3 separate regions of the Homo sapiens genome follow, and all the other regions are linked to region 1. Evidence: fine-mapped expression QTL. A gene starts in region 1. Each other region holds a variant in brackets. All regions are shown on one strand. Distances are from middle to middle.

Region 1 (4,118 bases):
GTTAACATAAATAATGTATTCTTCAAGCCTGGCCAACATGGCGAAACCCCGTCTCCACTACTAAAAATACAAAAATTAGCCGAACTTGGTGGCAGGCGCCTCCCAGCTACTCCGGAGGCTGAGGCAGGAGAATCGCTTAAACCCAGGAGGCACAGGTTGCAGCACTGAGCCGAGATCGCGCCACTGCACTTCAGCCTGGGCGACAGAGAGACTCCGTCTCAAAAATAATAATAATAATAATGATAATGTATTCTTTATGAAAAATAACTTTTCCAAAACAAAAAACATTTAGTGAGAAGAATCACACTGTGTACATTCTAACAAATGTCTGGCTTCAAATAGAAAACTGTTAGATTCTCATATCTACTTCCTTCTGTTACAGTATCACAACTCAGGTAGCCTCTGGAAAACTCCACTGTACACTTCTGAAAAAATGAGAGTGAAAAAGATAACATCTGCATATTATTACGAAAGTAATTTTAAACTGGCAGTGTCAGAGAATCCCATGGGTCCCTGGACCACAATGTGAACATCTGATTCAGCCTATACAAAAAAAAATTTTTTTAATCAAATTCTGAACATGTAGTAGCAACAAAACTTACTTTTTTCAAATCAAAGAAATAATATCTTATGCAGATAATGTGTTCTACTTTAATGCAGTAATACCATCCTCATCCAGGTCAAAATTTGTACCAACGATTTAAACTGAGCTACAAACTTCAACATAAATGAAAAATATTTCTGAGGTCTAAGGATTTTTTAAAACCAGTAAGTAGTCCATAAGAAAGATACAGCATCATCCTCCAGACCTCACTCATCAACTATCCGTAGGGCAAGGCAGATGAAAGACAGCAAGAACACAAAGAAAGTAGGCAAAGAAATGTCTGACCTCAAAGAAAGAAGAGGTCCATACAACTAAAAGCACAGTAGAATAACTACAAAAGTAAAGCAGTATTAGAGCAAACGCACCCTGGTGTAAAATCCAATAAAATACAACTACTGTCCCTTGATCGCATTGCTAAAAGAACTCAAAATGCTGTTTCAAGACTATATCCCCATTCTGCAGATAGTGAAACTACGCCAGGTAACTCTTGCTTGTACAGTGTCCGTCGTGACTGTGAAAAGGGGAACGCACTCGCTTCTCACATGCTAGGCAGGGTGTTAGGACACTGCGTGAAGGGGAATCCTGGTCTGGCTACAGGAGGCTTTTTGTTTCAGTGCTTGTACAACTTTCATAACTGGAGAGTAGTCCGCAACCATCTATTACTCCAAGAGACTGAGTCAGAAACCTGCTGTCTCCTCACATGACTTTCAAACACTGCGAGCGAGTGGCGACACTGCGAGCGAGTGGCGACACTGCGAGCGAGTGGCGGTACCGCGAGGAGGCCGCCCAAGCCCTGGGCTGGCGCGGATATCTGTGGTTCCGAAACGCTGCGGCAGCTTCTGTCAGTCCTGGGACTTCTGCGGGCGGTTGGCAAGGTCGGCCCTGCTCGCCCAGGCTACGGCCTCGCGGACCCCAGGTCACGCCTCCTTTGAGGAGTACTAGAGCCTCCGTCCTCCCCCACGCTGTTTCCCCATCTGCACTCAGTAAGTCAGACCAACCGGCCCTTGGCGCCCCTCCAACTCTACCATCGAACTGTCTGGGCTAGCGGCCACTCAGCCGCCCACCCGACCCACCCGACCCACCCGACTTAGACGGTCCTCGCCGTCAGGAGCACTCTGAGGGGTCCGGCCCGCGGCGCCCCGCACTCACCCGGCTGACGTTTCACCGCCATCACTGACACTAGATAGTGCGCGATGTCAAAAAAGGGAAACATGGACGTGCGGGAGAAGGCCAGAGCCAACTCGTCCCATGGAGAATCCATAACGACCACCGACCGCGGCAACCGAAGCAGCCGCGGCTACTGGTTCCCCGCGCTCGCGCGGTGAGGAGTAGGAGAGGGCACAGCCGCGGCCGCCCGCTCCTCCGCGCCGGCTCCAGCTCCGCGCGTGCGCCCTGGCGCCGAGGGGGCGGGGCCGCGCTTCGCGGGAGCCGCAGGCTCACCGGCGCTAGGCGGGTGGGCGGGGCGAGCGGGTTCCCCGCGGCTCCAGCCGGCTCTTGCCTCGGTTCTCCTAGTAAGGGTCCAGCGTCTTCTTGGTCCTGGGCGCAGTGCAGGACCTGGAGAGCGTGCAGATGAACAAAACACGGTCCTCAAGGGGAGACGCTCAGAGTTGGATTTATTTCTGTAAATTGATGTCATTCACCTAACATTTATCGAGCAACCACAGTGCAAGTCACACTGTGACTTACTGGAGATATAAAAATAAAACAATAATATCCTGACCTCAAGAACTATGCGTTCCCTGAAAGAGATTTTTTATAAAAAGAGAAAAAACGCACATAATGGTACAAAAGCAGGTACTGAGAAGTATAGCTGCCGTGCGAGAGCAGTTCGAAACGAAGATTACAATTCTGGGAAGTGAGTAAAGTGACATGTGAGCTGGACTTTAAAAGTTAAGTGAGAAACACAAGCTAGGTGGGAGATGGAGGGAGGTGTTTTGGGTTGACTACAAAGTGAGAAATGAGGTTGGGAAAAGTCCTCGAATGGCAGACAAAGCCAGGCAGTTTGGCTCCAGAGGTTAAATTCTTGATCAATCACTATGTTAAGCTCAGAGCCAGAATCTCTTCTCCTAATCTCTACGCTAACTGGGTTGTTTGGTGGAAGGTGAGGGAGTAGAGGTGCAACGAAGCAACAAGATTAAGAATAGATTGATGAGAAGCGACTGACAACGGAAAATCAGAGGGTATTCACTGGTCCAAGCAAAAGGTAGTGGAGGCTGTGGCAGCAGAAATTGAGACCAATTGTGGGAAACATGGGTAGAAGCAGAATATCGTCAGTGAGTGTCAGTCTGTACAGGCGGGAAAGGAAGCATTTGTCAAATAAAATGAGGAACGGGTGAGTAGGAGGATTGTGGTTGCATTCTGATAAATAGGAAACAAGAAGGAATAGGTTTGGGTAAGAAAAAAAACTAGCTTGGCACACTTATTTGATGTGTGAACAGATTATGCTGGCACCAGGAAATTGGAGAAACGTGATTAGCTGCTAGGTAGGTGACAGCTTCACGGGTGTATGCACTGCAAAAGGAGAATTTTTTTTATCTGAATATGTATTCATTAATTTTAATTCATTTAACAAAATGTTTTTTGCGTGCCTACTATGTAACCAGCATTTTGCTGGATGTCAGAAATACTGCCCTAAACACTAAGTGTTTAAAACGTAGGAAAATTGTAGTAAATCTCTACACTTCATTACTTATCAAGAAAGAATAGACTTGTTCAAATACTTTTCACGTGTGGTTTTCTAAGCAAGCACTTCCCGTAGAGAAAAGTCTTTAGACCTGTAGCACACTTTCTAGCAAAACTAAGGGGAAAAAAACCACCTGTGAATATTTATACTTTCCTGTTTAAGTCTGTTCTTTCCATACTTTTTACACATTCGCTTATTTTTGGAATTTTAGTTTTGCGAATTTAGGCTCAGAGTTTGGATATTACTTCTTTTTTTTCTTTTCTTGTTTTTTTTTTTTTTTTTTTTTTTTTTTTTTGATATGTAATCTTGCTCTGTTGCCAGACGAGTGCAGTGGCGCGATCTCGGCTCACTGCAACCCCCAACTCGCTGATTCAAGCGATTCTCCTGCCTCAGCCTCCCGAGTAGCTGGGATTAAAGGCACGTGCCACCACGTTTTTTTTGTATTTTTAGTACAGACGGGGTTTCACCATGTTGGCCAGGATGGTTTGGAACTCCTGACCTCATGATCCGCCCGCCTTGGCCTCCCAAAGTGCTGGGATTACAGGCGTGAGCCACTCACACCCAGCCTGGATATTATTTCTTTAAATATTTTACATTTTAACAGTCTTAAATTTTGCAAAATATATGGTTAGTCTTTGGACTTAAAAAAATATATGATGTAATCTTTAAGACACTACTGAATTGTGTGTCTATACCAGTATTATTCTGGGGTACCATTAAATCCATTATTAACATCAATAAGGCAAAATGAATAACATCAGAGGTTTTTTTAAGGAAGTAAATCAAGCACTTTACTTGCTTAAACAGAATAATTCCAATAGAAAGGAATTA
Region 2 (4,118 bases), 160 kb before region 1:
TTCCTCTTTCTCTTTCTCCTTTCTCTTTCTCTTCTCCTTTTCTTTCTCTTTTTTCTATTAAATCTCTCTTTCTTTCTTTTTTATCTCTCTTTTTTCTTTTTTTATCACTTTCTCTTTCTCTCCACCTTTTCCTCACTTACCTCTCACATACACATGCATACCTCACAGACTCAAATTCTCTTCCAGTGGGATTTCTCTTTCTTGAAATAACACCTTCTTAACACTCACAACTTTTTAATCCACTCTTTTACACACTTTAATACTCTTAATGAACTCTGTCCTTCATTCTTGCATGTATACATATACATATTCACTACCATCACAGGCTGAGGCTCAGGTGGGGGAGGAGTGAGTCATACTCATTGATGTCTTGTTCACTGATGGCACACATGTTTCCTGTCACCATGACCAGCTTTTATCAATATGCCTTTTTCCTCCTTATTGCATGCTTATGGCCCACAGTGCACAGCAGGTATGACTTGAGTCCACCTAACAATCTTTCCATTCAATTCCTGCTCTTCACTGGTTTTCCTACAGATCCAATGGCTAAAAATGTGCTGGAAGAGACTCATACCAATCAAGGGGAAAACAGGGCCCATTACAGCATTAGCCATGGCTGTGTGTGCTTTGCTGAGCAGTAAGGGCATCTCAGCTCATGAATCAATATAGTACAAGTTTCTCCAAGGCTAGACTATTCCTGTCTGGTACATTTTCCTAATAAAACACCTCACACTGTGTCTTTGCTAAATGGCGATTGTGTTGATGTCTTAGAATTTTGGCTAAAGCTCAAAGCTGAAAGGTGGCCACAAGTGAGACCTGGATCTCTTAGTTCATCCTAAACAAGCTTTCAGAGTCAAAGTAAGAGTTTCTTTGTTGTCTGCCTGGCAGGAAATGTGTGGCATCCTCTTTTGCTCTCCATGGCAGGGTCATAGGGTGTGTACTTTGCCTCACCACAGCCCCCAGGGAGCTGCCTATGACTGCAGAGTGGAGAAGGACAGCCACAGTGCAAGCAAGCTCCACTTCCTCAGAAGGAAAGGCAGGGGTGTAGGTTTCCCTATGGGTTAAGGTAACTTCACCAAAAGTTGCTAAGCTGCAGTCATCTTGAAAAAACCCCTGCAAAGGAAGATTGCCCACAGACTGAAGAGATTTCAGTGGGAAGTCTGGAGATGTTTCCTCTGAGCAAGAGCTCAGGGAGGTAGAAGCAGATTATGACAGCCAGCTAGAGAATGTATCAACAACTTGGGAGAGCTGTGCAGTGTCAGAGATCTCTGGGAGGACCAGGAATGTGGCTTGAAGGACTCATAGAATCTCCTTGAGCATGTGGGCCATCACCACACACAAAGCATCAGGTCCCATTATGCCAGCAGTTGTCAAATAAGATCTCCTTCTCGCTTTTCCTCCTCACTTATCTAGAAGCAGTAAGTGAGTAGAGAGGAGGGAGCAAAAGCCAGGAGACAGAGTCAAAAACAGACCACATCTCCCTTCTCCAAGGCAGGAAGCTGAGCCTGGGTCTGTCCTAAGCTAGGCAGTAGAGGACAAATAGAATCTGGTAAAAGAGTGAAGTTTTAATTTAAATCATATTGAGCTTTTTAATACTCAAAAAATGAGACTATTCTAATGCCTGCTATTACAAAAAAAATCTTCTATCTTTTTTTGAAATGCTTTCTAGTAATAGAAAAGGGGTTCCCAACAGAACTGGTTTGAAGAGCAGTGGCAGTGGGGGTGTCAATAAAGTTATTCTTGGATTGTATTCTACCAAGTTCATTCAACATATAGGTAAGTTATACTTACAGTTCAGATGTGCTCAGATGTAAGGCATGCTAGAATCTTGGTGCAGGATGTGCAGGATGGGGGCAATTGTTAAATGTGGACTCTGAGCTGGGAGGAGAAAAACAACCAGAAGTGGGAACAGAGAGAAGGGTCTGGGGATGCTAACCTGTTTCCGGACAAGTATGTGGCCCCCAGCCCAGATCTGAAAGTCTGGTTCTCCACATACCTGTGTTGGGTATTCTGACTATTTGGGAGGATGACCCAACAGTAAGGTCCAAGATTCAGAGGCCAAAGAGCTCAGGAGCCAATAAGTGGTATACCTGGCTCTGGAAGGTCCCTGCCAATGGACAGGGGGCTGAGTACATTCCATCATGCAGGAGAGGGACAAAGGGAGTTAAATAGAATATCTGGGTTCCAACAAATTCACTGAGGTTCAGGAAGAGACATCCACCCAAAGATAAGAATGGAGAATTAGGAAGGTAACTAGTAAAGTACAAGGCAGGAACCAGTCCTGTGGTGTGAAAGGAGGCAGAAGGGCTGGTTAAGCAAGGAGACTCAGTTCCATGAGTTTGCTTCCCAGGAAC[T/C]GTTCCCCTATGACCCCCTCTCTGCTTAGCCCCGGCTGAGTTAAAATCTCTTCTTTGATTCTTATCTTACTGTCAAGCAATTTTCCCTTACTTTCCTATCTCCTTCACAGGGCCTAGAGGAGAACTTACCTGGGAGCAAGGATTCAGTAAATGTTTCATGAGTGAGTGAATCAATGGATGGATTAATGAATGAATGGATGGATAAAGAGCTACATAAGTGCCTTGGGCTAGCTCCTGGCAGTGCATACGTCCAAAGTTTGGTTAGCAATGAACAGGCTTTAGCAGGTAGGCTAGGGGAGGAAGGTGCCAGGGAACCTAGTGAGAAGTTGCTGGGGAAGGCAGAGGTCAGGGAAACAAGATGGCAGTGGATATTGTGCCCTTTCTGCAGTTTTCCACAACTGACCTTGGAGTGTTTGCAGTACAGAGGCCATCACAATGCAAGTATATCTTCTATATTAAATAAGTCATGAGCAGCCATTCATCAATGGTGCCAGGCACTGTGGCACTACAACTTGTAGGTAGAGAAACCACATCCAAAGGGGCATATGATCCAGCTCCTGCTGAATCCGTTCCCAATGAATCACAGCTACAGAAGAATAATGTCATTTGGGAACATATGCTAAGAACACCTTCCCAATAAAATTCTTTAAATTAAAAGGCAATGTTTAAATCAGGGTGAGCATATCAATATCAATGAGATGCAATTGATTCCAACTACCTGAGGGGGAAATCAGGCCCATATTACCATGCATAGCCATATTACTGCAGTAAGTCAAGCCGGACAGACAAAGGGAGAGTGGTCAGACACCACACCCCACACAATTTCAGATCTCTGAGCCCTATGCCAAGATTCTGCCAAACCGTATGGCATCCAAGAGATGGGAGTTAGATAGGAAAAGCATATGGCTAGGGTTGGAAAGGGAGGGGTGCAGTGGGGAGGAATTGCACAAGAAACAGACTTGCTTTTCCAGAGGAGGTCTGCTTCAGCATCAGACTGTTGAGGCAAAAATATGCTGTTTGAAACAAACAAAAAAAAATGTCCTTAGTATTGCCTTTTAACACCAGGAATTGTGCACTGAAGGGTGGGCCACAAACAGCTTATACCCTGCGCACTCACAAAGTGCAGACGTGCAGATGGGTGCACACAGGGAAAGTAACCCCAGGAGTCCAGACCCTCTTGGGTGCTGTCAGAGGCATCTGGCAGAAGTAACTTGATTACTTGATTCAAGACCCACATTACATGTTTTGCAAGTATAATTTTTTTATTATTTCTTTGGGGATAAAAAAAAAAGTACACACATAAAATTTTTAGCATATTTTTAGTGTGTTTGCCAACTGCTACATGGGGGAAGGGTGTCAGATTTGGATCTTTAAATTCTGTATTTTTAAAGTGGTCATAAGTATTTAAAAATTAAATAAAAGAAAAGAAAGCTATCACAGAAAGCTAAAAGGATATTACTACTTGGTGAGGAAAAGCCAATCTAGGAATTTCCGAAGTGGATGAATATGAAGCTTAGAGGGAACTGGGTCAAGCATTGCATATCCAAGCAACAGCCTGCCTTTCCATATTTAACATGAGACCAGGCCATAAATCTAACAATAGTTAGACACTGTGTGCCCAAGGGCATTCCTTGGTTCAATAAGATATGTGACATTGAGCAAGTCACCTTCTCTCAAAATTAATTAAGAGTCTTGGAAGACCTGCAATATGCCTGCTACTATGCTAAATTTCATAACCATGCACTTTTGAAAATCCTCACCACA
Region 3 (4,118 bases), 36 kb before region 1:
CAAAAAGAACAAAGCTGGAGGCATCACGCTACCTGACTTCAAACTATACTACAAGGCTACAGTAACCAAAATAGCATGGTACTGGTACCAAAACAGAGATACAGACCAATGGAACAGAACAGAGGCCTCAGAAATAACACCACACATATAAAACCATCTGATCTTTGACAAATCTGAGAAAAACAAGAAATGGGGAAAGGATTCCCTATTTAATAAATGGTGCTGGGAAAACTGGCTAGCCACATGTAGAAAACAGAAACTGCATCCCTTCCTTACACCTTATACAAAAATTAATTCAAGATGGATTAAAGACTGAAATGTTAGACCTAAAACCATAAAATCCCTGGAAGAAAACCTAGGCAATACCATTCAGGACAAAGGCATGGGCAAAGACTTCATGACTAAAACACCAAAAGCAATGGCAACAAAAGCCAAAATTGACAAATGGGATCTAATTAAACTCAAGAGCTTCTGCACAGCAAAAGAAACTACCATCAGAGTGAACAGGCAACCTACAGAATGGGAGAAAATTTTTGCAATCTACCCATCTGACAAAGTGCTAATATCCAGAATCTACAAAGAACTTAAACAAATTTACAAGAAAAAAATCAAACAACCCCATCGAAAAGTGGGTGAAGGATATGAACAGACACTTCTCAAAAGAAGACTTTTTTGCAGCCAACAGACATATGAAAAAATGCTCATCACTACTGGTCATGAGAGAAATGCAAATCAAAAACACAATGAGATACCATCTCATGCCAGTTAGAATGGTGATCATTAAAAAGTCAGGAAACAACAGGTGCTGGAGAGGATGTGGAGAAATAGGAACACTTTTACACTGTTGGTGGGACTGTAAACTAGTTCAACCATTGTGGAAGACAGTGTGGCGATTCCTCAGGGATCTAGAACTAGAAATACCATTTAACCCAGCGATCCCATTACTGGGTATATACCTAAAGGATTATAAATCATGCTGCTATAAAGACACATACACACGTATGTTTATTGCTGCACTAATCACAATAGCAAAGACTTGGAACCAACCCAAATATCCAACAATGATAGACTGGATTAAGAAAATGTGGCACATATACACCATGGAATACTATGCAGCCATAAAAAAGGATGAGTTCATGTCCTTTGTAGGGCCATGGATGAAGCTAGAAACCATCATCCTGAGCAAACTATCACAAGGACAGAAAACCAAACACTACATGTTCTCACTCATAAGTGGAAGTTGAACAATGAGAACACTTGGACACAGGGTGGGGAACCTCACAGACCAGGGCCTGTCGTGGGGTGAGAGGGAGGGGGAAGGGATAGCATTAAGAGAAATACCTAATATAAATGACGAGTTAATGGGTGCAGCACACCAACATGACACATGTATACATATGTAACAAACCTGCACTTTGTGCGCATGTACCCTAGAACTTAAAGTATAATAATAATAATAATAATAATAATAAAGATGTTCTTTGAAACCAATGAGAACAAAGCTACAACGTACCAGAATCTCTGGGGCACATTTAAAGTGGTGTGTAGAGGGAAATTTATAGCACTAAATGCCCACAAGAGAAAGCAGGAAAGACCTAAAATCAACACCCTAAGATCACAATTAAAAGAATTAGAGAAGCAAGAGCAAACACATTCAAAAGCTAGCAGAAGGCAAGAAATAACTAAGATCAATGCAGAACTGAAGGAGATAGAGACACAAAAAACCCTTCAAAAAATCAATGAATCCAGGAGCTGGTTTTTTGAAAAGATAACAAAATAGATAGATGGCTAGCAAGACTAATAAAGAAGAAAAGAGAGAAGAATCAAATAGACGCAATAAAAAATGATAAAGGGGATACCAACACCGATCCCACAGAAATACAAATTACCATCAGAGAATACTATAAACACCTCTACTCAAATAAACTAGAAAATCTAGCAGAAATGGATAAATTCCTGGACACATACACCCTCCCAAGACTAAACCAGGAAGAAGTTGAATCTCTGAATAGACCAATAACAGGCTCTGAAATTGAGGCAATAATTAATAGCTTACCAACCAAAAAAAGTCCAGGACCAGATGGATTCACAGCCAAATTCTACAGGAGGTATAAAGAGGAGCTAGTACCATTCCTTCTGAAACTATTCTAATCAACAGAAAAAGAGGGAATCCTCCCTAACTCATTTTATGAGGCCAGCATCATCCTGATACCAAAGCCTGGCAACAACGAATAAAGAGAATTTTAGGCCAATATCCCTGATGAACATGGATGGAAAAATCCTCAATAAAATACTGGCAAACCAAATCCAGCAGCACATCAAAAAGTTTATCCACCA[C/T]GATCAAGTTGGCTTCATCCTTGGGATGCAAGGCTGGTTCAACATACGCAAATCAATAAACGTAATCCAAACAGGACCAACGAAAAAACCACATGATTATCTCAATAGATGCAGAAAAGGCCTTCAAAAAAATTCAACAGCCTTTCATGCTAAAAACTCTCAATAAACTAGGTATTGCTGAAACGTATCTCAAAATAATAAGAGCTATTTATGACAAACCCACAGCCAGTATCATACTGAATGGGCAAAAACTGGACGCATTCCCTTTGAAAACCGGCACAAGACAAGGATGCCCTCTCTCACCACTCCTATTCAACATAGTATTGGAAGGTCTGGCCAGGGCAAAAAGGAAAGAGAAAGAAATAAAGCGTATTCAAATAGGAAGAGAGGAATTCAAATTGTCTCTGTTTTCAGATGACATGATTGTATATTTAGAAAACCCCATCGTCTCAGCCTAAAATCTCCTTAAACTGATAAGCAACTTCAGCAAATTTTCAGGATACAAAATCAATGTGCAAAAATCACAAGCATTCCTGTACACCAAGAACAGACCGAGAGCCAAATCATGAGTGAACTCCCATTCACAATTACTACAAAGAGAATAAAATACCTAGGAATCCAACTTACAAGGGATGTGAAGGACCTCTTCAAGGAGAACTACAAACCACTGCTCAACAAAATAAAAGAGGACACAAACAAATGAAAGAACATTCCTTGCTCATGGGTAGGAAGAATCAATATTGTGAAAATGGCCATACTGCCCAAGGTAATTTATAGAGTCAATGACATCCCCATCAAGCTACCAATGACTTTCTTCACAGAATTGGAAAAAACTACTTTAAAGTTTATATGGAAACAAAAAAGAGCCTGCAGAGCCAAGAAAACCCTAAGCAAAAAGAACAAAGCTGGAGGCATCACGCTACCTGACTTCAAACTATACTACAAGGCTACAGTAACCAAAATAGCATGGTACTGGTACCAAAACAGAGATGTAGACCAATGGAACAGAACAGAGACCTTAGAGATAACACTACACAGCTACAACCATCTGATCTTTGACAAACCTGAGAAAAACAAGCAATGGAGAAAGGATTCCCTATTTAATAAATGGTGCTGGGAAAACTGACTAGCCATATGTAGAAAGCTGAAACCGGATCCCTTCCTTACACCTTATACAAAAATTAATTCAAGATGGATTAAAGACTGAAATGTTAGACCTAAAACCATAAAATCCCTGGAAGAAAACCTAGGCAATGCCATTCAGGACATAGGCATGGGCAAAGACTTCATGACTAAAACACCAAAAGCAATGGCAACAAAAGCCAAAATTGACAAATGGGATCTAATTAAACTAAAGAGCTTCTGCACAGCAAAAGCAACTACCATCAGAGTGAACAGGCAACCTACAGAACGGGAGAAAATTTTTGCAATCTACTCATCTGACAAAGTGCTAATATCCAGAATCTACAAAGAACTTAAACAAATTTACAAGAAAAAAATCAAACAACTCCATCAAAAAGTGGGCAAAGGATATGAACAGACCCTTCTCAAAAGAAGACATTAATGCAGCCAACAGACATATGAAAAAATGTTCATTATCACTGGTCATGAGAGAAATGCAAATCAAAACCACAATGAGATACCATCTCACGCCAGTCAGAAGGGCGATCATTAAAAAGTCAAGAAACAACAGATGCTGGAGAGGATGTGGAGAAATAGGAACACTGTTGGTGGGAGTGTAAATTAGTTCAACCATTGTGGAAGACAGTGGTGATTCCTCA

What was found. PIP is the estimated chance that this variant, and not a neighbour inherited with it, causes the effect. A credible set is the group of variants that fine-mapping cannot tell apart.
Region 2: its variant is the best candidate, but not a certain one, in a credible set for the expression of TMEM38B in esophagus mucosa (GTEx, PIP 0.62).
Region 3: its variant is the best candidate, but not a certain one, in a credible set for the expression of TMEM38B in thyroid (GTEx, PIP 0.60).

Annotation. Positions count from the first base shown.
Region 1 is chr9:105,692,408-105,696,525 of GRCh38, reverse strand. TMEM38B (transmembrane protein 38B) reads right to left here and starts at 1,985. Exons shown (of 6, transcript NM_018112.3): 1 at 1,754-1,985. The coding sequence starts at 1,865. RefSeq lists a silencer at 1,882-2,151.
Region 2 is chr9:105,855,333-105,859,450 of GRCh38, reverse strand. No RefSeq gene overlaps it. Among named protein-coding and RNA genes, the nearest start is that of TMEM38B, 160 kb to the right of the region's middle. The variant T/C (reference allele first, on the strand shown) is at 2,355.
Region 3 is chr9:105,728,650-105,732,767 of GRCh38, reverse strand. The region is part of intron 4 of TMEM38B (transmembrane protein 38B); the gene reads right to left. Among named protein-coding and RNA genes, the nearest start is that of TMEM38B, 36 kb to the right of the region's middle. The variant C/T (reference allele first, on the strand shown) is at 2,338.